Linked DNA regions of Homo sapiens. The protein of the gene in region 2 interacts with the protein of the main gene of each other region in a pairwise test. Each region holds a gene or a part of one and is shown on either strand. Other genes may lie near its edges. The genes, in order: NEBL, CEP70, C8orf33 and AGBL2.

What was found.
Region 1: the proteins of CEP70 (region 2) and NEBL interact in binary tests that used the Homo sapiens proteins (3 or more experiments, as listed by UniProt).
Region 3: the proteins of CEP70 (region 2) and C8orf33 interact in binary tests that used the Homo sapiens proteins (3 or more experiments, as listed by UniProt).
Region 4: the proteins of CEP70 (region 2) and AGBL2 interact in binary tests that used the Homo sapiens proteins (3 or more experiments, as listed by UniProt).

What each region holds. Positions count from the first base shown.
Region 1 is NC_000010.11:20,810,303-20,817,329, forward strand, and holds part of NEBL (nebulette), read right to left. Parts: intron 5,416-7,027; coding exon 5,323-5,415; intron 3,742-5,322; coding exon 3,637-3,741; intron 2,639-3,636; coding exon 2,467-2,638; intron 1-2,466. UniProt on the Homo sapiens protein: Binds to actin and plays an important role in the assembly of the Z-disk. May functionally link sarcomeric actin to the desmin intermediate filaments in the heart muscle sarcomeres.
Region 2 is NC_000003.12:138,570,251-138,577,277, forward strand, and holds part of CEP70 (centrosomal protein of 70 kDa), read right to left. Parts: intron 2,735-7,027; exon of another isoform or gene 2,683-2,734; 5' UTR 2,678-2,682; coding exon 2,609-2,677; intron 1,107-2,608; coding exon 1,016-1,106; intron 908-1,015; coding exon 784-907; intron 277-783; exon of another isoform or gene 249-276; coding exon 68-248; intron 1-67.
Region 3 is NC_000008.11:145,048,469-145,055,483, forward strand, and holds the start of C8orf33 (UPF0488 protein C8orf33), read left to right. Parts: upstream 1-3,998; 5' UTR 3,999-4,023; coding exon 4,024-4,029; intron 4,030-4,117; coding exon 4,118-4,429; intron 4,430-4,593; coding exon 4,594-4,678; intron 4,679-4,828; coding exon 4,829-4,975; intron 4,976-5,549; coding exon 5,550-5,689; 3' UTR 5,690-7,015.
Region 4 is NC_000011.10:47,684,368-47,691,394, forward strand, and holds part of AGBL2 (cytosolic carboxypeptidase 2), read right to left. Parts: intron 6,492-7,027; coding exon 5,709-6,491; intron 1,683-5,708; coding exon 1,526-1,682; intron 1-1,525. UniProt on the Homo sapiens protein: Metallocarboxypeptidase that mediates deglutamylation of tubulin and non-tubulin target proteins. Catalyzes the removal of polyglutamate side chains present on the gamma-carboxyl group of glutamate residues within the C-terminal tail of tubulin protein.

The DNA.
Region 1 (7,027 bases), on a different chromosome or scaffold from region 2:
ATTCAGGACATGTGAGTAATTCATAGGAAACAATTGAGAAGTTTATGTTTAAAAAACAAAACAAACAAAAAAAAAGTCCCTTTCTATAACAGAAATGAATATTTAAAATGTGGAATGGTGGCAAGCCTAGTTTTCATTCTGAGTCTGTGAGTGCAAGCTAAGTGTATCTTAGGGAATGCATATCTTATTAGATACACTTATTTAAAAAGTGTTATAAGCAAGGCACACAGCAAGGAAATATGATGAATGAAAAGAGAAATAATATCAGCTTCCTGCTGTCAATGGATCCCTGCCATAGTCAGTGATCAGACTGTGCAAACCACTTTATTCTCCTCTTATTTTAATAACTTCTGAATTCACCAGTCTCTCCAACAAAAGGGCATCAGATCCTAAAATAAGCTGTTTACAGCTGTACCAACAACTGGAAAAGAAAAACCTAGTTATAGACATACGGCAGAAATGGGGCTACAGCAAAAACAATTAATTTGTAAAATGGAACTGGAAATTTGCTTGTCTGTTTTTAATTAATATTATGTAGTGCTGACCATATGCCAGGCACTCTTCTCATTTAACACCTAATTAATTTAAGTTTCATACATATTATCCTCATTTTGTAGATGAGGAAACTGAGGCACAGAGAAATTGAGTAGCTTGGCCAAGGTTACACAGCTCGTAAGAAGTAGCAGAGCCTCCAACAAAAATAGAAGCAGCACAAATTGGCTTAATCTGAATTACTCAGAAAATCTCTAAACGTGTATTTTCATGCCTGATACAGAAGCTGGCTCATTGGAAAGTTTAATGTTGGCCAATTATGGAAATTTCAATGGAAAACAGTTCTTCCCAATAAGAACAAATAAACTGACTTCTGGATTGCCAAGTAAGTAAATAACTTAGAGTCATACATCTTATATTTTATAAAACAATCATAATTTCAACCTCAATGGTTTTGAGTACTGAATTCTGAGAGCCCACGGTCTAGACAGTTTCATGGTTTTTAGCAACGACCTCACCATCATTCCTGACCTCTGATGTGTGCAGGGCCTGGAAGTAAGCTGTACAGACTTTAGCAGTTCCACCCTAAGTGAGATAAATCAGAACCCCTGCACTATCCCTTAAGATAGTTCCATCCCTTTAGCACAAAGCAATGAAACTCTAATTTGGTGTCACATTGAATGAAAACATCACAACTCATCCATCCAACTTAATGTGATCCTTTTAAGTAATCAACTCAGGCAGATCAGCAAAGCTATCAATTGCCTACAAACATGTTTGGAATCCTTCTTCAGAAAATACTTCCAGAGTCACTTTAGTATAATCATCCAAGTTACTTAGTGCTGCTCTGACTTTAGCACCCTGGTTTTGTAAAGACATTACCCTGTCAAATTTAGCTTATCTCTAAATGGCCTTTCACTAGTACCAAAAAATAAGCTCCTACTTTTGAAGATGAAGAAAACCTAACACTGATATTACTGAGTGGCATATACCAAAAATATTCTTTAAGCTACGTAACTACATAATTCAGAGGTTAACTGCTCTGAAGGAGACAATAGTCTTCAGTTGTTGATACAGACTGAAAAATCAATAATCATCCTTCCTAGCCCTGCCTTATACTTCAGTATGATCTTTTCTGATATCTCAGCCACCATTCAACAAATATCCTTCTAGGATTTCTCCTGACTATAAGGAACAGATAGCAGGAATAAAAGTTTGCTCTCTTAATTGCAAGACTTTCAGATGGCTCTCAACTATTCCAGTCCAGAAATAATATTTTTAAAATGAGCTATTACTATTATGGAGTACCATCAGAACGCCCATGGCGTGTCTGTTTTTGATAAAAGGACCTAAACGCAATATGGTTATTTCTGCCACTTATGCACATGAGGTCAACAGAACAACACGTCAACCAAGCAGAAAAACAATTATTTTGTTTTTCTTTTTAAAGAAAAACAAAGTAATTGTTCAACCATTGTGATCACTCATATCTCTGCTGCTTCTTTGCTTAACAAGGAGGAACATTCTTTTTTTTATTATTATTATACTTGAAGTTCTAGGGTACATGTGCACAACATGCAGGTTTGTTACATACGTATACATGTGCCACGTTGGTGTGCTGCACCCTTAACTCGTCATTTACATTAGGTGTATCTCCTAATGCTATCCCTCCCCCCTCCCCCCACCTCACAACAGGCCCTGGTGTGTGATACAAGGAGGAACATTCTTAAAATTAGCAAGGTATTAAAGACAGAGCTTCCAATAATAGAAAAGACTTGAGATGATACCAGGTGAATGCCAGAAATCCCATTCCACATCGTACAAAAATAATACTTTACCTGCGGTCCATTTTAAATTGGGTACCACAACCAACATGTGATGAGGAGTCAGATGACTCAAGAGGGTAATTCTGAAGCTAGAGCAAGCATGATCTTTTCGACCACACACACCGGCCGACAAACGCCGTCAGCTTACCAACAATGATTCCAGGTCTCCTGTCCATCTCCACGATGTGAGGGTGGACCCCTTTATAGGCAGCATCGCTGACCACCTGGGTGTTCTTCCTCACTCTCTCTGTCACAGGATCGTCCACGACGGGAGTAAAGCCTCTCCCCTTTGTTTTTTCAAAATCTTCATGGTATTTTACCTGAAAAAGGAAAAATCATCATACTGAATTTTGCGGATAGTTACCTCTTTCACAACATTTTTATTAAATGACAGGTGTACACTGCACTGGCTGCGTGCAGATTGTCTACATGTATGTATCTTTTCCAAATACTCCAAAACTAAAGTCTGGAACTTCAGTTTCTTAGCATCAGAAATCAAGTGCTGATATTTTCACAAAGTTTTTAATCATTATAGCTCATATCTATTTTAAATTATATATAAAACTATATATATATTATTAATGAGAGCTTGTAAAAATACATATTCTCAAATCCTGGTTACTTCCTAAAATATACTAATTTAAATATAAATTAAATTTCCTATCTCTTCAACTTCAGTATGCAATAAAGTGATATCTATTTCCAGGCAATCATTCATGAAAATGGCATTATTTAAAATCAGTTTGAAATTTTATAGGTAACAATATATACCACTTTTAATATAATTACAAAAACTTATACTTCAAAATATACTTTTTTTATGTCCTGAAATTAGGTCCAGGAGATAGTTGTGTAACTGTAAATTATACTAGAAACCATTGAATTGAACACTTTAAATGGGCAAACTTTATGGTAGGTAAATTACATCTGATAATATAATTTTTAAAACACACATTTTTAAAAACACAGCTTTAAAAACACACTTCTTTTCATATCCTTTATGACAGGCAAACAGACCAAATTTTGTCTTAGAATTAATTGGAAAGAAGTCTACACAAATATCTTTCACACTATGAGTTTACAGTAGTCACGTTAGAAATAAAGACACACCAGAAAAAGTCACTGAGAAAAATCATTTTATTAGACTAAATGTTTCCACTGCATTTCAGTGTGATTAGAAATGCCCCTCCCTCAAAAGACAAGCCAACCACATTTCCATGCTTTGTTAGTTATCGGATTAATAGTGAAGTAATGCCATCCGTGCACTGGATCCGCCCATTCCTTAGCATGTTTTAAGAATGATCTGGTTGGACCCTACCATTGAAATATGATTTTGTGCTTCTTTAACATGTCTCATAGCAGGTGTATCTAAAATCAGACTTGGTCTACCTTTCATCTGTTTATGGTCCTGGGTATATTTTACCTGCAAAGTAAATAGTAGGCATAAGACAATGATAAGAAAACACATGATGTAACATTTTTAAGCTTTACAAATGAGTGAAACATATGCAACATACTTGAAATTATTTTCCAGGTAACTATTTCAGTGAATTAAATTTTGTTCTAGAATAGCAACCTAAAATTTTACAATCAAAGATCTCCTCCACCGCCTACTGCTAAATGACCTAAATCTATCAACTCTAAACAAATGTGTGAATGACCAATAGTAACTATCTATCTAGTCTGTAAACCTGCGCAAGCCCGAGGACTCGTATCTGTAATCACAGCACTTTGGAAAGCTAAGGTGGGAGGATGACTTGAGGCCTGGGATTTGAGACTAGGCTGGGCAGCACAGTGAAACCCCCCATCTCTACAGGTAAAAATTAAAAAAAAAAAAAAATTAGTTGGGCGTGTGCCTGTAGTCCCAGCTACTTGAGAGGTTAAGACAAGACAGCTGCTTGAGCCCAGGAGTTCAAAGCTGCAATGAGCTATGATTGTGCTATTGCATTCCAGCCCGGGCAACAGAGACTGTGTCTCAAACACACACATACACACATACACACACACACACACACACACAACTGGTTATCATATTTAAGTTAAACAGAGAAAATCCAAAACTATTAAATAGAACCCAAAGTTATTTTGTTTCTAAATTTCCCAATTTTCTACCATAAGAGTGTTAAAAAATGCATACAAGCTACTCTATTTCTTTTTATTTTTTTCTCTGCTTAGGGAATAAGAAACAATGAGGAACAAATTTAGTTGTTCTTCTAAGCAGCCACAACTTAAAGGTAATTTATGTTAAATACACACAGCATCTCTGGACAGAAATGTCACTAGGAAGCTGTAAATTGCAAAGCCTAAATGCTGATTCTCAGGCAAACAGCTATTCAGGGTATGCTAAGAAAAGGGCCTGTGTTCTTCACAACTGCCCATCAGAACACCGCCATTTATGAAACTGATTAGGTGTAAGATATGGATACCACTTACTGTGGACCTGAGGGCATTATGTACAATTCAGAATTGAAGCCCTGATATTCACTAAGAGGAAGCACAATATTCAGATAAGATACTCATGTACACCACTGGACTTTGGTGAGCAACTGAATTCTACGTTAACTGTATTTAAGGATTCTTTTCTGTAAGTCTTTAGTGGGGGTAATGATCCATCTCCTATTTTGTTTTGCAGACAGCATTTAACAATCCATGTTCAATGAAATATTTCAGGAAAATGACAATTATTTAACGCACACATCAAAGGCTTTACCACCTTCAAAGACACGGCTAACATATCATGAATCGTTGTTTAAATGAATATAATTTTAACCTAAGCTTTGAATGTAACTGTTGGTCACATCTGGAAATAACAAAGAGTTGCAAAATAATGTAAATGTTTGCAGTGGCAGCTTTTGGAAGTCATCTGAAATAACACATGTACTTATTGGACACATCACAAATGTTTCTTGAAAATAAGTTTTATTTTCACAAGCAAAGGAGGACCGCAAGTAAATAATAAAAGACACATCCTTTGTGATAGTCTAAAATGAAGAAAACCACTTGCCGAGCTAATATTTTCTTGATTCTTCTTCACTCTTTCCATTTCAGGAGTTACACTTAAAGTGGTAGCTCTTCCCAGCTGACCTCTGTAATAAACCTATCATTTCAGAGAACAAAAAATAGAATACTATGAATCAATTCAACAAAGAGACTTATTTATTTATTTAAGACAGGGTCTTGCTCTGTCACCCAGGCTGAAGTGCAGTGGTACAATCTTTGCTCACCACAGCCTCGATCTCCCAGGCTCAGGCAATCCTCCCACCTCAGCCTCCCAGGTAGCTGGGATTACAGGCACCTGCCACCATGCCTGGCTAATTTTTGTATTTTTGTAGAGATTGAGTTTTGCCATGTTGTCCAAGCTGACCTGAAACTCCTGGGCTCAAGTGATCCACCCACCTCAGCCTCCCAAAGTGCTGGGATGACAATCCTGAGCCACAGTGCCTGGCTCACAGTATTTATTTTAATGAGTTAGTCAGGGAAGTTTTGTAGGAAACTACAAAAAATATTTTCAGAGGTTGAGTTGTATTTAAAATGCTGGCATCTTAAATCAATCTATTTCATTTCATCCCATAAGAGAGTACATGTGTCCAAATCACTGTGGATGTACTCGAATACATAGGCATACCATCCGTAAAGCTGTAATAAATATTTAACCACAAAAGGAAATGAGAATAAATGTCTTCATGGAGATTACTTAAAGGTATTCACCGTAGACTGGTACTACATGGTCGTGGTTTCTTAGGAATTAACTGCGGCAGAATTTTTGTAAAGATGTGTTTAAATAGGTGACTGTGGGCATCCTTTAAAAAGCCAGCATGCTTCTCACTGGTCCACTCCTTGTCTAAATAACCATGTTCCTTTTTGAGAATAATGGAGTCACATCAAGTATGACTCTAAATATATGGGGGAAAGATGAGCGTCTACTTCTCTAAAATATAGTTGTTAGGAAAAGTATCAATCACCTGCCTTTGCATTATAAACTGGTAAAATGACTTTAAAGGTGTGAAGAATAAAAGATTTCTTTGAACGTAATAGATTTCCAAGTTTCCTCTTCCAAAGAACCCAATCTATATGTTAATGACTGTAAAAGAGGACTTTCTTCTTGAACTGCATCCGTGAATTATTTCAACAACAGGGAATCGGAGCAGGCCACAAGTTGGTGTCTAGGTAAAAACTGCCAGCCCCTTATTAAGTGCCCCCAAAATGGTCCTGTCCAATATAACCTATTCAGCCATGCACACATTATCATTTCTTCCTAGACTTTGCCCAAAAATGGAGTCATGATTGTGGGAAGTGGAAAGTGGGGCTCGGAGGAAGCGCAAGAACAGGAACACATGCTGGTAGAAAAGGGAGGGAAAATGTTTGTTTGTAGGGCCAGGATGCCAGAAGCTACGACTGTGGGACTTGAGGAGACCATAGCACCCATCAGCTAGATGACAAGATAGAAGGGATACACAACAACCTGTCAAAAAAAGTCACCCAGGCCCGGTGGCACACATCTGTAATCCCAGCACTTTGGGAGGCCAAGGTGGCCGGATTGCATGAGCTCAGGAGTTTGAGACCAGCCCAAACCCCGTCTCTACAAAAAATACAAAAATTAGCCAGGTGTGGCAGCATGTGCCTGTAATCCCAGCTGCTTGGGAGGTTGAGCTGGGAGGATCACTTGAACCCAGAAGGCAAAGGTTGCAGTGAGTCAAGATTGTGCCACT
Region 2 (7,027 bases):
CACCTGGGACCATAATGAGCTGTTTTAGTACTAACTAACCATCATCTAAGAATTCATAACTCAGTACCTGTAAAGTTTTCTGCTCCTTTTGAAGATCTTTTATTTTATTCTGTTGGTGGCAAGCCCTACTTAGTGATTCATCCTCCAATTCACCAATTTTGGATTTCACACTTTCCATAATTTGTTCCAAGTCATTAGCTCGTTGTTCTTGATTGGCTGCTCGGCTTTGCTCTAGCTGAAGTTCATTTCTAAGTTAATAGACATACAATTTCTTCCCTTAGTATTAAAAATAAATCGAATTACCAAGCATATCCATATAAGAATGTATTGCCTTTCTAAAGTTTCTTTGCATTCTCTTTATCCAAAATGCTTGGAACCAGAAGTGATTCATATTTCAGATTTTTTCAGATTTTGGAATATTTGCATCATACTTACTAGTTAAGCATCTCAAATCTGAAAATCCAAAATCCAAAATGCTCCAATAAGCATTTCCTTTAAGCATCATGTTGGTGCTCAAAAAGTTTCAATTTTTGGAGCCTTTCAGATTTTCAGATTTGAGATGCTCATCCTGCAACAGAAACTAATAGAAGAAATATAGGGTACCATTAAACATCTATGCTAAGCTATTACCAAAAGATTTACCTATTAAAATTTTACCTACAAAAATATTTTTTAGTTTAATATTTAATCAAAATGGGAAATTAAATTTCAAGATTTTTTTCAAGGCAGTTATTTTTAGAACGCATACAAACAATTCAAAAGAAATCTTTTCCATTTTCTCACCTAAGCTGTTGATTAGTTTCTATAAGCTCCTGTATCATGTTCTGTTGACATGATGTTTCTTCCACCAACAATTTCAAATTCTGTCTCATCCTTTGTGATGACTGTTTGTCAAAAATGATGAGATCTACATTTAAAAAGTATATAATACAGATAGTAAAAATAAAAGGCAAAAAAAATTTTTTAAGGAAAAATAAACTTTTTACCTTAAGCATCAAGAATAGGATCTAATTACCTTTGAGATCTGTTCTTTTGACTAGAGACAAAGGTTTTAAGCCATGCATCATCAATAGCACATTTATGCTTTCCCATTCTGCTTCTTCCTGCTACAATTACAGAAAGAGAAGAAAGGGTTAACTTTAGATATAAAGTGAAGAAATTCTCTCATATATAATTTCCTGCATTTTCAGAATAGAACTTTTTCTTCAAAAGTTTTAAGTATAAATGTTTATGCATATATAATATCCAAAAAACACATTTATTGTTTCTAGCAAAATTAGTAATAGACTAGAAGTATGTAAATAAGCACAAATTGTTGCATTATACAGAATACTCATATGTAGGCCTCAATGGACAAAACCAACAACAACAACAAAAACACCTTGTAATTTCAGTGAATCAAATAAATCTAAGGTTTTAGATTTAACTAAGCCAAACCAAGCCCTGCTCAGAATAAACAGCTGTAAACTAGGCTATAATAACTGGATAGTAAAGAAAAGAAAAGGTGAGTCACTTCTAAGTATCACTTTCTTTTTTCTTTCTTTTTGAGACAGAGTCTTGCTCTGTCACCTAGGCTGGAGTGCAGCGGTACGATCTCGGCTCACTGCAAGCTCTGCCTCCCAGGTTCACACCATTCTCCTGCCTCAGCCTCCCGAGTAGCTGGGACTACAGGCGCCCGCCACCACGCCCGGCTAATTTTTTGTATTTTTAGTAGAGATGGGGTTTCACCGTGTTAGCCAGGTTGGTCTGGATCTCCTGACCTGGTGATCCACCCGCCCTGGCCTCCCAAAGTGCTGAGATTACAGGCGTGAGCCACCGCCCCAGCCCCTAAGTATCACTTTCATAATGACTAGGGTCACAAAAAAATCAAAACATACCTGACTAGTTGGAGCCAATATTTCAGACAGCTCCTTGTCAAATGGACAAGGTCTAACTATAAAAAGGAGCCCGTCCATCTGGATAACTGACTCTAACAGAATCACCCTGAAAGACACTCTCAAAGTCAAACAAGTCTTTCTTTTTGACTGTTGACTTCTTCCTCCTTTTTTTTACATCTCCTCCCACTCATAACTTTTCTCTCATTTATGCTTTAGTCTTTCTGATCACAGAGTTTAACTACGTGGTAGACACAACTAAAATTAACATTGATGTTGTTTTAGGAGCCAAAAGCTCTGAGTTAGTGTCTCAGAACTTCTACTGTAACTCATAAAAACAAAATGCTCTATACATAATAAAGTCACATATTTTGAATGATTAACTTATACATATTGTTTCCTGATACCTCTTACATTTTAAGATAAAGTAATTGTAAATTCTGAAAATAGTTGGGAATGGCATTTTCCAAAGTACATGCTACAGAACACTAGTCTAATGAAATGTTCATCAAACTAGTGTTAAGTATGTATGAAATGCTGTATACTAAATCCTCCCTTTGGAGACTAATATTGTGAAGTCTTAGAGTAATTAAACCATTTCATAGTCTTTAACCCAGCATTTCCTAAAATTATTTGAGAAAGAATCCTTTTAAAGTCAAATTTTCCTGTTTGTAGATGTAGCATTCTTTGGCACATATTTTGAGAAGCAGTGTCTTAAAATATTTTAAGTTTACCTGTTTTTCAGTCATGAGTCTGTCTGATGGTTGACTGGAATCCTGGGGTTTAGGGGCTACCGGAAACATAGTTACTTTTGTAGAATCAAAAGAAACAGAAATTGGCAATTAAAAAATTTGAGTTGCCTAAATGAAAAAAGACAAAAAGTGCAAAAGGAGTTAAAGAAAAGTATATTTAAAAGAATCCACTACTCTTGCAGGGCAATTCAGGTCATTCCTGCGTCAAAACTTTGTGACTTCTTAGATAGCTGATTGTAAGACTCATTTGAATAAACCCTATCTTATAATGTTCTCCTCTGGAAATAAAGCATTCTGGGATTTTACACATATACCACACACACACATACACTCTGTCCTGTCTAACCCCCCACCACAGAATGCATAACTGGTACCCAAGAACAGAGGAAAGAATGGAGTAGAAGGAGCATTTGAAGAGCTAATGGCTAAGAAAAATTTGAGAATCAATGAAAGACATAAATCCACACATTCTAGAAACCCAACATATTGCAACTGGGATACAGTAAAAAAAAAAAAGAAAAAAGAAAAAAAAAGTCAGTCATACCTAGACACTAATATCTTCAATGTGCTGAAAGAAAATAATTGCTTATCTAAAATTCCAAAGCCAGTGAAAACATTCATTAACGAATAATAAAGGCAAAAGTAATATATTTTCAAACACATGACACAAAATAAATCTGAGAGTGTTCATTGCATCTGCTCTGTAAAAAAATTCTAAAGAAGCTGCTTCATGCAGAAGACTCCCTGATGGAAAAGCAGAGATGTAGAAAAAAATAGAGCAAAAAAATGGGCGAGTTTAAACACAGACTACATAATGAGATCTTGTGAAGTATAAAATGTACAATTAAAATGCACAGTAACAGAAATATATTAGCTGAGAGTAGGGTAAATGGAGTAACAGTGTTCTAAGTTTGTTTACAATGGAGGTGGACACTGGTAAAGGTATCTGTTAACACTGGGCTTTTGTATAAGTTAAGGATGCTTGAGAATTTCTAGGACATCCACTGAAGAACTGAACAGAAGTATATAATTTTCTAACTAGTAAAGGGGAAAAACAAGACTATAATGATGCATTTTTAAAAATAAACCCAAGGGCATCCAAGATGGCCAAATATGAAAGGCTTCAGTCTGCAGCTCCCAGTGTGACTGATGCAGAAGACAGGTGATTTCTGCGTTTCCAACTGAGGTACCTGGTTCATCTCGTTGGGACTGGTTGGACAGTGGGTGCAGCCCACAAAGGGCGAGCCGAAGCAGGGTGGGGCATTGCCTCACCCAGGAAGTGCAAGAGTAGGGAGATTACCCATTCCTAGCCAAAGGAAGCCGTGACAGACTGTACCAGGAAAATCCAGACACTGCTACCCAAACACTGCGCTTTTCCAATGGTCTCAGCAAGTGGCACACCAGGAGATTATATCCCATGCCTGGCTCAGTGGGTCCCATGCCCATGGAGCCTTGCTCACTGCTAGCGCAGCAGTCCAAGATTGAACTGCAAGGTGGCAGCCTGGCTGAGGGAGGGGCATCTGCCATTGCTGAGGCTTGAGTAGGTAAACAAAGCGGCAGGAAAGCTTGAACTGGGTAGAGCCCACCGCAGCTCAAAGAGGCCTGCCTGCCTCTGTAGACTCCACCTCTGGGGGCAGGGCATAGCTGAACAAAAGGCAGCAGAAACTTCTGCAGACTTAAATGTCCCTGTCTGACAGCTCTGAAGACAGCAGTGGTTCTCCCAGCATGGTGTTTGAGCTCTGAGAACGGACAGACTGCCTACTCAAGTGGGTCCCTGACCTCCGTGTAGCCTAACTGGGAGACACCTCCCAGTAGGGCCCGACTGACACCTCATACAGCCAGGTGCCCCTCTGAGATGAAGATTTCAGAGGAAAGATCAGGCAGCAATATTTGCTGTTCTGCAGCCTCTGCTGGCGATACCCAGGCAAACAGGGTCTGGAGTGGACCTCCAGCAAACTCCCACAGACCTGCAGCTGAGGGACCTAACTGTTAGAAGGAAAACTAACAAACAGAAAGGAAAAGCATCAACATTAACAAAAAGGACATCCACACCAAAACCCTATCTGTAGGTCACCATCATCAAAGACCAAAGGAAGATAAAACTACAAAGATGGGGAGAAACCAGAGCAGAAAAGCTGAAAATTCCAAAAATCAAAGCGCCTCTTCTCCTCCAAAGGATCGCAGCTCCTCACTAGCAACAGAACAAAGCTGGATGGAGAATGACTTTGACGAGTTGACAGAAGTAGGCTTCAGAAGGTCGGTAATAACAAACTTCTCCAAGCTAAAGGAGGATGTTCAAACCCATCACAAGGAAGCTAAAAACCTTGAAAAAAGATTAGATGAATAGCTTACTAGAATAAACAGTGTAAAGAAGACCTTAAATGACCGGATGGAGCTGAAAACCATGGCACGAGAACTATGTGACACATGCACAAGCTTCAGTAGCTGATTTGATCAAGTGGCAGAAAGGGTATCAGTGATTGAAGATCAAATTAATGAAATGAAGCGAGAAGAGAAGTTTAGAGAAAAAAGTAAAAAGGAATGAACAAAGCCTCCAAGAAATATGGGACTATGTGAAAAGACCAAATCTATGTCTGTTTGGTGTACCCAAAAGTGATGGGGGGAATGGAACCAAGCTGGAAAACACTCCTCAGGATATTATCCAGGAGAACTTCCCCAACCTAGCAAGACAGGCCAACATTCAAATTCAGGAAATACAGAGAACACCACAAAGATACTCCTCGAGAAGAGCAACCCTAGGACACATAAGTGTCAGATTCACCAAGGTTGAAATGAAGGAAAAAATGTTAAGGGCAGCCAGAGAGAAAGCTCGGGTTACCCACAAAGGGAAGCCCATCAGACTAACAGCAGATCTCTTGGCCGAAACCCTACAAGCCAGAAGAGAGTGGGGGCCAATATTCAACATTCTTAAAGAAAAGAATTTTCAGTCCAGAATTTCATATCCAGCCAAACTAAGCTTCATAAATGAAGGAGAAATAAAATCCTTTACAGACAAGCAAATGCAAAGAGATTGTGTCACCACCAGGCCTGCCTTACAAGAGCTCCTGAAGGAAGCACTAAACATGGAAAGGAACAACCAGTACCAGCCACTGCAAAAACATGCCAAATTGTAAAGACCATCAATGCTAGGAAGAAATTGCATCAACTAATGGGCAAAATAACCAACTAACATCATAATGACAGGATCAGATTCACACATAACAATATTAACCTTAAATGTAAATGGGCTAAATGCCCCAATTAAAAGACACAGACTGGCAAATCGGATAAAGAGTCAAGACCCATCAGTGTGCTGTATTCAGGAGACCCATCTCATGTGCAGAGACACACATAGGCTCAAAATAAAGGGATGGAGGAAGATCTACCAAGCAAATGGAAAGCAAAAAAAAGCAGGGGTTGCAATCCTAGTCTCTGATAAAACAGACTTTAAACCAGCAAAGATCAAAAGAGATAAAGAAGACCATTACATAATGGTAAAGGGATCAATTCAACAAGAAGAGCTAACTATCCTAAATATACACGCACCCAATACAGGAGCACCCAGATTCATAAAGCAAGTCCTTAGAGACCTACAAAGAGACTTAGACTCCCACACAATAATAATAGGAGACTTTAACACCCTACTGTCAATATGAGACAGATCAACAAGACAGAAGGTTAACAAGGATATCCAGGACTTGAACTCAGCTCTGCACCAAGCAGACCTAATAGACATCTACAGAACTCTCCACCCCAAATCAATAGAATATACATTCTTCTCAGCACCACATCACACTTATTCAAAAATTGACCACTTAGTTGGAAGTAAAGCACTCCTCAGCAAATGTAAAACAACAGAAATCACAACAAACTGTCTCTCAGACCACAGTGCAGTCAAATTAGAACTCAGGATTAAGAAACTCACTCAAAACCGCACAACTACATGGAAACTGAACAACCTGCTCCTGAATGACTACTGTGTAAATAACAAAATGAAGGCAGAAATAAAGATGTTCTTTGAAACCAATGAGAACAAAGACACAACATACCAGAATCTTGGAACCAACCCAAATGTCCATCAATGATAGACTGGATTAAGAAAATGTGGCACATATACACCATGGAATACTATGCAGCCATTAAAAAGAATGAGTTCATGTCCTTTGTAGGGACATGGATAAAGCTGGAAACCATCATTCTGAGCAAACTATCGCAAGGATAGAAAACCAAACACTGCATGTTCTCACTCATAGGTGGGAACTGAACAATGAGAACACTTGGACACAGGAAGGGGAACATCACACACCAGGGCCTGTCGTGGGGTGGGGGGATGGGGGAGGGATAGCATTAGGAGAAGTACCTAATGTAAACGACGAGTTAATGGGTGCAGCACACCAACAT
Region 3 (7,015 bases), on a different chromosome or scaffold from region 2:
GGTCAGAATCCAACCCTTGTTATACATCAGCAGATTCACATTGGAATGAAATCTGATAACTACAGTAAATGTAGGAAAGTTTTTTTGTAGATTCATAGCCCCTGCAGAACCTAAGGCAGTTCCAGGTAAAGAGAAACCCTATGGGTACAGTGAATATGGGAAGACCATACAGAATTCATACCACTTTCTGGATCAAAAAGAATCAAAGAAGAGACAAAGCCTATGAATCTCATGCATGTGCAAAAACCTTATATTATGTGTCAAAACTTATTAAGTATCAGGGTATGTAGTCTTTAATAGTTTAGAGCCTGTTCAGTAGCAGAAAATCCACTCTATCAATAAACTTTATGAACATAAATACTGTGACAAAGTCTTCAGGCTAATTTTAAGTTTAAAAAATCAGGCTTTATCATAGAAAAAAATGAGAAAAAAATAAAAGTAAAATGTGATCCAAACTTGTAATTATGTTAATGGAGACACAGTATATATAAACATATTTAGATATATGTTTTCTTTCTTTCTTTTTTCTTTTTTTTTTTTGAGACTAGGTCTTTCTCTGTCACCCAGGCTGGAGGGTGGTCGTAGAATTTTGGCTCACTGCAACATCCGCCCCTGCACCATCCCCCTTCCCACCGCTGCCCAAAGCAATCCTCCTGCCTCAGCCTCCCAAGTAGCTGGGACCACAACCGGCTAATTTTTTAAATTTTTTGTAGAGACCATGTTGCCCAGGCTGGTCTCAAACTCCTGGGCTCAGGCAATCTGCCTGCCTTGGCCTCTCAAAGTGCTGGGATTATATGCGGAGCCACTGTGCCCAGCCTGGATATCTGTTTTCTTAAACTGTGTCCTTCAAGGTCAGGGTACTTCTCTTGTTCTTTCACCGTACCCATCCCATTGCCTTATTCATTCAGCCCCTTAATAAATATTTTGGTGTGATTTGCTAACTATGGAAAAATCTTTTCTGAAGACTCATGTTTCCTGCCACAAGAGGAACCATAGAAAATATAGCACTGGAAAGGCAACAGTTCAAATCCAAGGTTATTCATGATTACATCAACCTACAATTACTGTGCAGCCCCTATGTGCCTGGTAGTGTGCCTGACAATGGCAAATCAGAGATGCAGAAACACTTGGCCTCTTTTCCTCATATCTCTCAGTCTAGTTGGGATACAAAGGTATGTAGAGACAGATAACCACATCAGTACAGTAATAGAGGTAAGAATACAGGGTTGAGTGGGGTCCCAGAGGTGGGAGAGGTCTACAGAGATGGCTCATTTTCAAAATTCTGAGAGACAATAACTGTTAACCTCAAATTGTGTTTCTATCCAAACTATCCTCCAGGAATTAGAATAAAAATAGGCATTTTCAGATGAGCAAAACCCAAAACACCATAACAGATTTCATTAAAGGAGCTTTAAAAGGATGTACATTTAAAGAAATGATATCAGAACTGAGATATAAGGAATGATGCCAGGCATGGGAGGCTGAGGTGGGAAGATTGCTTGAGCCCAGGAGTTCAAGACCAGCCTGGGCATCCTGGTGAGACCCCATCTCTACAAAAAATTACAAAATTAGCTGGTATGATGGTGCATGCCTGTGGTCCCAGCTACTTGGGAGGCTGAGGCAGGAGGGAGGATCAGTTGAGCCCAGGACAACCTAGGTGACAGAGTGAGACATGGACTCTAAGAAAAACAAAAGTTGTATATTTGAAAACACTGACTGTAAATAGAATTAAGTCTAATATGGCAGATTTAAAAACAAAGATAGAAATGAAGTCAAGACAAAAATAGCATATGAGTCAGGAAGGTAATGGATAAAATCAGAGCATTGAAAGTGAGGCAGGATAGGTAGTCAAGGAAGTAACCATGTCCTCGGGATGCAGCAACTGTTGTGACTGTGCAATCAGCACAATAAGCCTCTGCCTTCACATTGTGGTTAAGCTCTTTCAAGCAAAACTATCTTCAGTAGAGAATTTCCCCTGCAAAGAGCATGTACATTTTGATTTTACCTGTCCTCAGACTGACCTTTCGCTCATTATAATAGTAAAAAACAGAGCCCTGGTTGGAGGTTTAAGATGCTAATAAGACATGTGACATGTACGAACAATCATATACCAGCATGTAGAACAAGCATTGTATGACAAGAAGCATTGTATGAACAAGCATGTAAGAACATACAGCTACCGCACATGTGCACTCAGAGGACCATCCAGAACATACTCACTAGTAGCACCTCTTCCCAATTCCTTATGAATAATCATGTAAGACCCCCATAAAGGGAGTCTCCCTCATGCGTCTTTGCTGCCCCAACCTTATGAGCAGCTGGCCCTCAATCCTCTCTCTCTCTCTCAGGGTGTACTGTCTATTGTTCACTTAACTTTCCAAATATTCTTTCTCCTTTGTAATAAATTACTGTATGCCGCATCTCCTTTACTGCGTGTCCCGTTTAAATTCTGCGTGTTTTTTTTTTTTTTTTTTTTTTAGATGGAGTCTCGCTCTGTCACCCAGGCTGTAGTGCAGCGGTGCGATCTTGGCTCACTGCAAGCTCCACCTCCCGGGTTCATGCCATTCTCCTGCCTCAGCCTCCCGAGTAGCTGGGACTACAAGTGCCCGCCACTATGCCCGGCTAATTTTTTGGTATTTTTTAGTAGAGACGGGGTTTCACTATGTTAGCCAGGATGGTCTCAAACTCCTAACCTCGTGATCCGCCCGCATCGGCCTCCCAAAGTGTTGGGATTACAGGCGTGAGTCACCGCGCCCGGCCAATCCGCCGAATTTTGGGAGTAATGTATCACACTGCAGTAAATAACTATCAGTGATGACCAAACTGTAACCCTTCGAGACCTTGCAGACCAGGCAGCTAACACTTCCCACCCCACCGTCTCAGGAAACACCGCTTTCCACTCCTGTGTCCCCGAAAGGAATCATCAGACATCTCGGACTCTTACCTTCTCAAGCAACACAACCCACCCTCCTGGCATAGCCCGTTGCCCCCCTGAAACCCTACTCAGCCTCACCTCAACCCCTACGCAATTCCTCTCGGTTGTCATGCCTCCATCGGCGGGGGTCGAGTGTTGTGTGTGACCCCAGGTCTCTAGCAAGGTATAGTGGGAGGGAAGCATCCAGGGGAAGAGAGGTGGTGGGATGGGGCTCTCCCTCTCCCCCATACCGCCACCCTCCCTCACGTCCATATCCTGTCCAAGGCTCTTCCCGCGTCTGCTTCTGAAACCCCTCCACGTCCCTCCACCCCATGTGCCCCACTCGTTACACAAGAGCAGAGAGATCTGCAGAACATACGTCTACGATTATGCCACTCTTCAGATTTACATCTTGCAGCGACTTCCCACTGCGTTAGAACGGAAGTAAGCCCATGACGGGGGCCCTCCCAACTCTCAGACCTCACCCGAGCCTCCACGTCCCGAGACGCCGGCCTCTCAAACGACCGCGCCCTGACCCTCGCTCTTCCCCATTTCCCAGGGTCTTTGCCGACCACCCTCTTGCGCCGTAGCTGCTCACGTGCTGTTTACTTGCTTTTCCCTCCCCACCAAAAGGTGAGCCTTGAGAAGACACACCCTCGTGGAGAGCTTTGAACTTTTATCCGGAAAGGTGCCGGGCACGTAGTCAGCGCCCGCGATCACTCGCTCACAAGGGTTCTTCCGAGACCCCTCTTCAGCCTCTTCCCCGAACCCCCAGGCCCCGCCCCAGCCCCATCTCAGCTTCGTCCCAGGCGCGTCCCAGCTTCGCCCCGTCCCAGCTTCATCCCACCCCAGCCGCGCCCCGCCCCGCCCGCTCCCCGCCCCGCCCGCGCCCCGCCCGCGCCCCGCCCCGCCCGCGCCCCGCCCGCGCCCCGCCCGCGCCCCGCCCGCGCCCCGCCCGCGCCCCGCCCGCGCCCCGCCCGCGCCCCGCCCGCGCCCCGCCCGCGCCCCGCCCGCGCCCCGCGGAACCTAGAGTCGCAGGCGCGTTCTTGAAGGACGGAATTCGGCGTCGGACTCTGCGCCCCGCGTAGTTCCGGTGGCGACTGCGGCGCATGGCGGTGAGCGGTGTGGAGAAGACGCGCGGGTGGCTGGGCCTTGCATTGTTGGCGGCTCTCGGTGACCCTCGTGCTACCCCCCTTTCTCCAGGCCCTGGGACATCTTGCTGGGGAGGCAGCGGCGGCCCCAGGCCCGGGTACTCCCTGCGCGTCCCGCGGAGCCCGGCTTCCCGGCCCAGTTTCCAGCGCCCGGAATCCTTCCACTGTCTGTCTCTGCCCAGAGCAACCTACGTGCAGTAACGCTGACTCCAGAGCGCACCCGTTGGGCGATGAAGGCGGCACAGCGTCGAAAAAACAAAAGAATAAGAAGAAAACGCGGAACAGGGCCTCTGTGGCAAATGGAGGCGAGAAGGCCTCAGAGAAACTCGCCCCAGAAGAAGTTCCCCTAAGCGCTGAGGCCCAGGCAAGGGCGGGCTTCGGTCGGGAAGGGTGGAATCCACGGGTGCGAATCCACGGGCACGTGTGATCTGGGGTCCGCGGAGTTAAGGCGGGGAGGGGCATGGGATGGGGCCGGCGGCTATGGTTTTCCAGTGCCCTCTCACAGCCACTTCCCCAAATCCATCACAGGCACAACAGTTGGCCCAGGAATTGGCTTGGTGTGTGGAGCAACTGGAGCTGGGCCTCAAGAGGCAGAAACCCACCCCGAAACAGAGTAAGGGACCCTTCTGTAGAGCTGGGGGATGTGAACAGTGGCACTGCCTGGCCTGCAGGTGCTGGCAGAGTATGGAGTTGTTGGCTTTGCGGCGGGGTGGTAGGAGGTCAGTAATAGAGGTGTTCACTAGTCCTTTATTTTTATTCGCAGAAGAGCAGGCTATTGGAGCAATCCGAACCCTGCGCAGCAAAAGAACGCCCTTGCCCCGGAAGAGGCAGCTGATGCACTCCTTGTTTGGAGACTATAGGGCTCAGATGGAAGCCGAATGGCGTGAGGCCCTGCGGGCTCTCAGAGCTGGTGAGGAGCTAGCCACTGGTTGATTCAGGAAGGCCTAACTTAAGGAGGAAGTGTCTAGGGGGTGAAAGGAAGAAGGCCCAGAGCAACAAGCCTGGTGGGGGAAGGAGATGGGCTCAGGGAAGCCTGAGGGAGCAGGGAAACAGAAAGCGTGGACCTCTCTTTCCTCTTCCTAGGACTGAACCTGGGAAGCAGCGGGGAGGCCCTGGGAGGAGTGGGAAAGAGCATGGTCCTATGTTGGTCCTGCTCCTGGGTTGGGGAAAGCTGCCTCATGTCTTTGTGTCTTGGCTTTCTCTACTAGCAATGAAGCCATATCCCATAACAGTTTGAGTGCAATTCCTGGGGCCAGATCAGCTAGGTTCAAATCCTGGATCTACCACATAGTAGTACTAACACCTTTTGCAAACTACTGAACCTCTCTAAGTGGGGGATGATAGTAATATCAACCTTACAAATTTGAGGAATTAATCAGTTAATTTATGCAAGGTGGTTAGAATTGTATGGGCAAACATAACTGTACAGGTAATGTTAATTGTTATTATTCAGTTCTGACATACGCTGCTTCTCTCCCCGACAGCTGCTTATTCAGCCCAGGTGCAACCTGTAGATGGAGCCACCAGAAAGAAGAGCCAAAGGGTCTGCAGGCCTCGCTCTATATGGAGAGCCAAAGCCACTCTGGACATGCCTGATGAAGAGTTTAGGTTCAATTTCTTTTAGCGTCTCCCCGAACCTGAAACAATCCCCCTCCCTTGGGGTGGTGTAGGGGTTTGTTTTGAGTGCAGAGCCTTTCCAGGACTTCTGTTGTCAGAGAACCCTGGAGTTGGTCTGTCCCTGGCTGGTCCAAGGATTTGTAGCTGTTGTGAAGGTGTGAGACCATCAGATAGGCAAAAGACCCCGTTCGTTTTCTGATGAAATGTTCTCTCTTTCAGAAGAGAGAGAGAGGTGCATTTAGAAAATATGCAATAAATTGAAGTGAGTGTTCAAAGTATTGTAGAAGGAATATTGTACTCAGTCTTTAGGATTAGATTAAGTGGCTGTTGGTAACAAAGATTAGTGGAGAAGCTGTATAATCGTACACTGGTTTTCACTTTTGAAAGGAATCCCTGTCAAATGGTTTAGTGCTTAATGCTGTTATGTCATATTGCCCTAATCTCTATTTTTGATAAAATTGGATAAGGAGTGAAAGAGTATGCTGACCACCTATGTTAGAGGAAGTACAGAAGATGCAGGGGTGTGGTATCCCTGGGTCCAGTCCCTCACCTGGTACCTTTGTGCATGTTGCCTTCATTCCTGAGCAGGTATCATCCTCAGGGAACCAGCATGGCACCTACCAGGCCAGGCTCTGTTCTTAGGAGCAAGGAGCTTCTTGCGCTAACAGTTCTGGCCTGAGACCTGGATTGAGCCTTGGCAGACTTCTTGTCTAAATGTTGGCCATTCAGTCTCAGGCCCTCTGTTCCATGGAATTGGGAATCTCCAGGTGACCTAATCCTCATTGGTGGCTTGATGTTTGCTGGTATCTTCCAAACTCAGTTCCCAGACTAGATTGATACCTGGAGCCCAGCTGCCTACTCAGCATTTCCACTTGGGTGCTTCATAGGCATTTCAAACCTGATGTGTTTAAAACACTTGATTAGGCTCCGGTTTTCCTTTGGCTTCTGCTTTTCAGTGAATGGCATGACTGCCTATGTGGGTGGCAAGCCACCCAGGTGCCGAGGAAAGAGACTGAGGGCACGAGCTGTTCCAGTATAATAAAATATATAAAATAAGAAGAGTTATACTAGATCTAGATCATAGACATGATTATATGTGAGTATCATTAATCATTAGTTTATAGCAATTACTCTTTATTCCAATATTATAATAATCCTCACTCTACAATCATAACCTAGGAAAAACCAGGCCATACAGAGATAGGAGCCGAGGGGACATAGTGCGAAGTGGCCAGAAGACAAGAGTGTGAGCCTTCTCTTATGCCCGGACAGGGCCACCAGAGGGCTTGGTCTAGCAGTAACACCAGTGTCTGGGAAGATGCCTGTTGCAAAG
Region 4 (7,027 bases), on a different chromosome or scaffold from region 2:
CCAAGATGGTGAAACCCTGTCTCTATTAAAAATACAAAAATTAGCTGGGTGTGGTGGCGGGTGCCTGTAATCCCAGACCCTCGGGAGGCTGAGGCAGAGAATTGCTTGAACCTGGGAGATGGAGGTTGCAGTGAGCCGAGATCGCGCCACTGCACTCCATCCTGGGCGACAGAACAAGACTCTGTCTCAAAAAAAAAAAATAAGGAGAAGAAAAAAAAATAAGTAAAATAAATAAATAAATAAATAAAAATCCAATCTACTTTCTTCTTCTGAAAGCTACATTTTGTGGATCTATTTATGATGTGAAAAACCAGCTTCTACACCAATGAAGATTACCTGTATATGCCTGTCACAAAATTAGTCAATTATTAAAAACTTTTATATTGTTTTCATTAAGCTCTTTAATATCTTACAATTATTTGTGATCTTCTAGTATATAACCTTTCCTATGAAGACTCATGACATTAGCATTTTGCTTGTCCTTCAATCTCTTCTTCCAGGGTCAACCACCACAGGATAGGTGATAGATAACTGTATATGCAAGAATTTCAACTTATGGAGGGGCGCAGTAGCTCACGCCTGTAATCTCAGCACTTTGGGAGGCCGGGGCAGGCGGATCACTTGAGGTCAGGAGTTTGAGAACAGCTTAGCCAACGTGGTGAAACCCCGTCTCCACTAAAAGTACAAAAAAATTTAGCCAGGCATGGTTGTGCATGCCTGTACTCTCAACTACTCAGGAAACTGAGGCAGGAGAATTGCTTGAATCTGGGAGGCAGAGGTTGCAGTGAGCCAAGATTGCACCACTACACTCCAGCCTCGACAGAGCGAGACTCCGTCTCAAAAAAAAAAATAAAAAAGGATACCACATTTTATTTATCTGTTGATTGGTTGATGGACACAGCAATTCTTTTTTATTCTATTGTTTAGTAGTGGCAGGGGTCTCCCTATGTTGCCCAGGCTGGTCTTGAACTCCTGGGCTCAAGCAATATGCCCACCTCGGCCTCCCAAAGTGCTAGGATTACAGGCATGAGCCACTGTAGCTGGCAGGACACAGCAATTCTTTTTTTTTTTGAGATGGAGTTCTGCTCTTGTTGCCCAGGCTGGAGTGCAATGGCACGATCTCTGCTCACTGCAACCTCTGCTTCCCAAGTTTAAGCGATTCTCCTGCCTCAGCCTCCCAAGTAACTGGCATTACAGGCATGTGCCACCATGCCTGGCTACTTTTTGTATTTTTAATAGAGATGGGGTTTCTCCGTGTTGGTCAGGCTGGTCTCGAACTCCTGACCTCAGGTAATCTGCTTGCCTTGGCCCCCCAAAGTGCTGGGATTACAGGTGTGAGCCACTGTGCCTGGCCCCACAGCAATTCTTAAAACCACGCTTTTCTAAATTCTTGAAGTCTAGGTTGCTCGGATTTACCAAAGATAATAAAAAGAGATACAAAATGCCAAATAAAACACTACATATAGGAAGCAGTGAGTTCCCATGTCCCTAACTCAATGGAGAGAAAATTACATTATGTGCTTACCTTATCTGGTGCATTTTTGCATAACATTAAAGGAAAGACTCGTTCATGAAGCCAGTATTTGCGATTGTTGTTATTACAGCCATACAGGAAGATATTATTCTTACGACTGTGGCCATGGAAATCACAATACAACAGAACCTCTCTTTCTTCAAGAAGTCTATTGAGGGGGCAAACAAAGGACTCAGTGGACACCCAAATGCATACAAATAATTAAGGATCATTTGGTATCTCTTCCTTAAATACAGCTGTTAATACTTTCCCTCCTAAGAAAATCTCAACTCCATTGGCCTTCAATGGACCCTATCTCCATTCTCAGCCACTGCAGAAAACATGTCATCAGCTTGCCTTGCCAGTCAGAAGGACTTGAAATGGAAAATTTCTTTTTTTCTTTTTTGAGACAGGGTCTTGCCCTGTTGCTCAGGCTGGAGTGTAGTGGCCTGACCATGGCTCACTGTAGCCTTGACCTCCTGGGCTCAAGTCATCCGCCCACCTCAGCCTCCTAAGTAGTTGGGACTACAGGCACACACCAATACACCCAGCTATTTTTGTTTCTGGTTTTTTTTTTTTTTTTTTTTTTGTAGAGGCAGGGTGATAGAGTTTGGGTATTTGTCTCTGCCCAAATCTCAGGTTGAGATATAATCCCTAGTGTTGGAGGTGGCGTCTAGCGAGAGGTATTTGGATAGTGGGGGTGGATCCCTCATGAGTGGCTTGGGCCATCCCCTGGTGATACATGAGCTCTCACTCTGACTTTGCACAAGATCTGGTTGTTTAAAAATGTGTGACACTGGCCGGGCACGGTGGCTCATGCCTATAATCCCAGCACTTTGGTAGGCTGAGGTGGGTGGATCACCTGAGGTTAGGAGTTCGAGACCAGCCTGACCAACCTGGTGAACCCCATCTCTACTAAAAATACAAAATTAGCTAGGTGTTGTGGTGCATACCTGTAATGCCAGCTACTTGGCAGGCTGAGGCAGGAGAATCACTTGAACACAGGAGGTGGAGGTTGCAGTAAACCGAGATTGCGCCATTGCATTCTAGCCTGGGCATCAAGAGTGAAACTCTATCTCAAAAAAAAAAAAAAAAAAAATGGTGGGGGGAGGGGGGAGGGATAGCATTAGGAGATATACCTAATGCTAAATGATGACTTAATGGGTGCAGCACACCAGCATGGCACATGTATACATATGTAACTAAGCTGCACATTGTGCACATGTACCCTGAAACTTAAAGTATAATAATAATAAAAAAATAAATAAATAAATAATAAAAAAAAATAAAGTTTAGTTAGATCTTCCTACATGCTGTCTGCAATTCAGAAGGGTGCCTGGTGCACACAGGTAATGATACAGTAAGTTAATCCTTTAATTAATTAAATCCAGGCCCATTAACACCAGAACTGGGCTTTGACTGAACAGATAAAATATTTGACTTAATATCAACAGAGGGGACAGTATTATATGTTTTGTCCTACAAAAATATAGCTCTCTACTAAAAATGAAAAAGAACCCCACTTATACTAGAAATGATGGAAAAACATTCCCGTTATCAATTATTCATTGAAACTAAAGAATATTTAGTTTGGCTGCTAGCACAGTGCCTGGCACACAGTAAATATTCAATAAATGTATGTGAAATTGAAAAAAAAAAATGAACTCCGTCTCAAAAAAAAAAAAGTGTGGCACCTCCCCTACACTTATTCTCTCTCTCCTACTCCTGCTTTCGCCATATGATGTGCCTGCTCCCTCTTTGCCTTCTGCCATGATTGTACGCTTCCTGAGGGCTCCCTAGAAGTTGAGCAGATGCTAGCACCATGCTTCTTGTAAAGCTGCAGAACTATGAGCCAATTAAACCTCTTTTCTTTATAAATTACCCAGTCTAAGGTATTTCTTTCTTTCTTTTTTCTTTTCTTTCTTTCTTTTTTTTTTTTTTTGTTAAGACACAGTCTCACTCTGTCACCTAGGCTGGAGTGCAGTGGCGTGATCTCGGCTCACTGCAACCTCTGCCTCCCAGGTTCAAGCAATTCTAGTGCTTCAGCCTCCTGAGTAGCTGGGATTACAGGCGTGCACCACCATGCCAGGCTAATTTTTGTATTTTTAGTAGAGACGGGGTTTCACCATGTTGGCTAGGCAGGTCTCAAACTCCTGACCTCAAGTGATCTGCCTGCTTCAGCCTCCCAAAGTGCTGGGATTACAGACATGAGCCACCACGCCTGGCCAGATATTTCTTTATAGCAATGCAAATACAACCTAATACACGGGGTCTCACTGTGTTGCTCAGGCTGGTCTCCAACTCCTGGGCTCAAGTGATCCTCCTGCCTCGGCCTCTCAAAGTGCTGGGATTACAGGCATGAGTCACTGTGCCTGACCAGAAATGGAAAAGTTCTGATTTGGAAAGGGGTGGTGGGTAGCCTTGCGTAAGTTGACAAGGAAGTGCAAAAAAGCCTATTGAGAAAAAGCTCACCATGGTGCAGACCTGTGAAGAAAGAGAGGGAGGCAGAGAGTGGGCAGTTGCAGGAAAGAAAAAGAACCAAAGAAAGCCTTGATTCCTGACTTTCGAGGGCCAGTTCCTACAAGGCTCAGCTCTTCTTTGTCTCATGATCACCCAGGACACCTATTCCAGCTTTCCAAATATGTTCACTTTCCCCATGATGAGTATAATAACAACAATGCTACACATTTATAATATGCTGGGTACTATAGTAAATAGATCATGTGATTATCTCAATCCTCACAGTAACCACCCAAGGCAGGTATTATTTTTCCACTCTACAGATGAGAAAGCTGAAGCTCAGACACATTAAATCACTTAGCCAAGGTCACAGAACCAGCCAGCAGTAAAAACAGGTCTCAAACTCAGGCCTGTCTGACTCTGAAACATATGCTCTTTAGCTATGCCTGCCATGGTGCCATCTCAGCTCATTGCAACCTCTGCCTCCCAGGTTCAAGTGATTCTCCTGACTCGGCCTCCTGAGTAGCTGGGATTACAGGCACCCACCATCATGCCCGGCTAATTTTTCTATTTTTAGTAGAGACGAGGTTTCACCATGTTGGCCAGGCTGGTCTCAAACTCCTGACCTCAGGTGATCTGCCTGCCTCAGCCTCCCAAAGTGCTGGGATTACAGGTGTCAGCCACTGAGCCCAGCCCACATATTCTTATATGCTGTATTTTCATTTCCAATGGCATGAAAATTCCTTTAAGGTGGGTGCTATTACATTATAGCCTTCAATGCTTTTATACAGGCTTGAAAACTGCTGACTGATGTTATGATTCTTTCTTTGTGATAGGCAATATAAGATCGTAAAAGGAATTTAGACTCTGGAACCAGAGAGAGAGCCTGTATTTAAATATCTACTTTGTCACTTAATAGCTTTATGACCTTAGGCAAGTTACTTAACCTACCCACTTCTCAATTTTTTTTTTTTTTTTTTTTGAGATGGAGTCTCACTCTGCCACCCAGGCTAGAGTGCAGTGGCACGCTCTTGGCTCACTGCAATCTCTACCTCTTTGGTTCAAGCGATTCTCCTGCCTCAGCCTCTTCAGTAGCTGGGATTACAGGCACCCACCAGCACGCCTGGCTAATTTTTGTATCTTTAGCAGAGACTGGGTTTCGCCATGTTGGCCAGGTTGGTCTTGAACTCCTGACCCCAGGTAATCCGCCCACTTCAGCCTCCCAAAGTGCTGGGATTACAGCCGTGAGCCACCACGCCTGGCCTAGGTTCTCAATTTCTGTATCATACAACATGCGATATTGACTGTGCCTACCTCATAATGTTAATGTGAAGATTAAATGAGTCATGTGTGTAATGCACCTACCATACAGCTTGCCACTTCATGCATACACATTTACTAATTGTTAGCTACTATTATTATGATACAAGTCTCATCATGAAGACCTATGAACTCCCCTGAACTCTGACCTTTTCCATTCAATTATTTCACTTACAAGTGAAATGACTCTTGCTGAAATGTTGCATGTCCAGTTTCAACCCAAAGACAAGACATGATTTAAAAGTCTGAAAATTAACAAAGTCACTTGACTACAAAGAGACTGGTAAGGGCTCTGTCTCCAAAGTCATACTCAATTCCTTTAACAACAGAAGAGACCTCATACCCCATCAGGTAGGGATATCTGGTGCTAGGACTCATAGCAGTCACAGAAAGATCAACAGATAAAAAGTCTCACCTTTTGATCATGTTCCTGGTGTACCAAATACAAGGGAAAGACTCCTTCAGAATGGTTTTATAATGCCTGTTCAAATCCCTTCCGGCCAAGGAACACCGATAATTCCCCACAATCACACCATCTGGATTTAACATGGGAAGCACCTTGAAGACAAAAATATCTCTGAGGAGCTGGGCATCTGGGGAGTTGCTAAGGATGAAGTCCAAAAAGCCTTTCATAACCCAGGAGCCATTACTTTCTCCAGGGTGAACTCTGGCACTCAAGACCACAGCTTTCTTTGCAGCTGCCTCTTGAGGGGTCTGGGATGGGTTGGTGATGGTGAGCAAGTAAACGGTATTTCCTGCTAGGCTCCTGCATAAAGTTTGGAGCTTGCAGAACTGAGACTGGATAGGGTTGTTTGCCACTGACAGGAGGTAGCATTGCAAATCAGTGTATGTATATGGGTAGAAGTGTGCAAAGAAGCAAGTGTCCTGGTCATATGGAAACTGAATGGTCCACGTGAGACAGTAGAAGGGCTGCTGCCCATCATCCGTGTTGTTCTTGTAGTACTTGATTTCATTTCCTTCTCTCCTCCAGCCAATATTGCGGGTGTTGGCATCCAATTGGGAGTACAAGAGTGGCTTCATCCCTACAGTATAAAGACTCTTGGGTTTTAGCAAGTTGACAATGGTGAAGCGATAGGTAGCATCTTTTCTGGTGTTCTGAACACGAAAATAAAACCACTGAGTGTGTTTGTTAGTGTAGAGGTCAGTTCGCAAGGTGAGTTCATACTCATAGGTGTCTCTGTAATGGAGAAAATAGAACAACTCTGTAAGCTTACACCCTGCCTTAAAAAACAAATTGGGAAAATGTTGTTTTCTCCTGGTAAAAACAGGTCTTATTACAACAGAAAAATCTGCTACCTTAATCATTTATTCTCTGTAATCCCAGCACTTTGGGAGGCTGAGGCGGGCTGATTACCTGAGGTCAGGAGTTCAAGACCAGCCTGGCCAACATGGTGAAACCCCATCTCTACTAAATATACAAAAAAAAAAAAAAATTAGCCAGGTGTGGTGGCGGGTGCCTGTAATCCCAGCTACTCAGGAGGCTGAAGCAAGAGAATCACTTGAACCCACGAGGTGTAGGTTGCAGTGAGCTGAGATCGTGCCATTGCTCTCCAGCCTGAGCAACAGAGCAAGACTCCATCTTGAGGAAAAAACAAACAAACAAACAAAAACAATAAGGAAGTATATCTATGGTACTGCCATAGAAAAACACCTGAAATTTATGAAGTGGAAAAAAAATTTGCCAATTTGCAAAACAATATGTACATACACCAT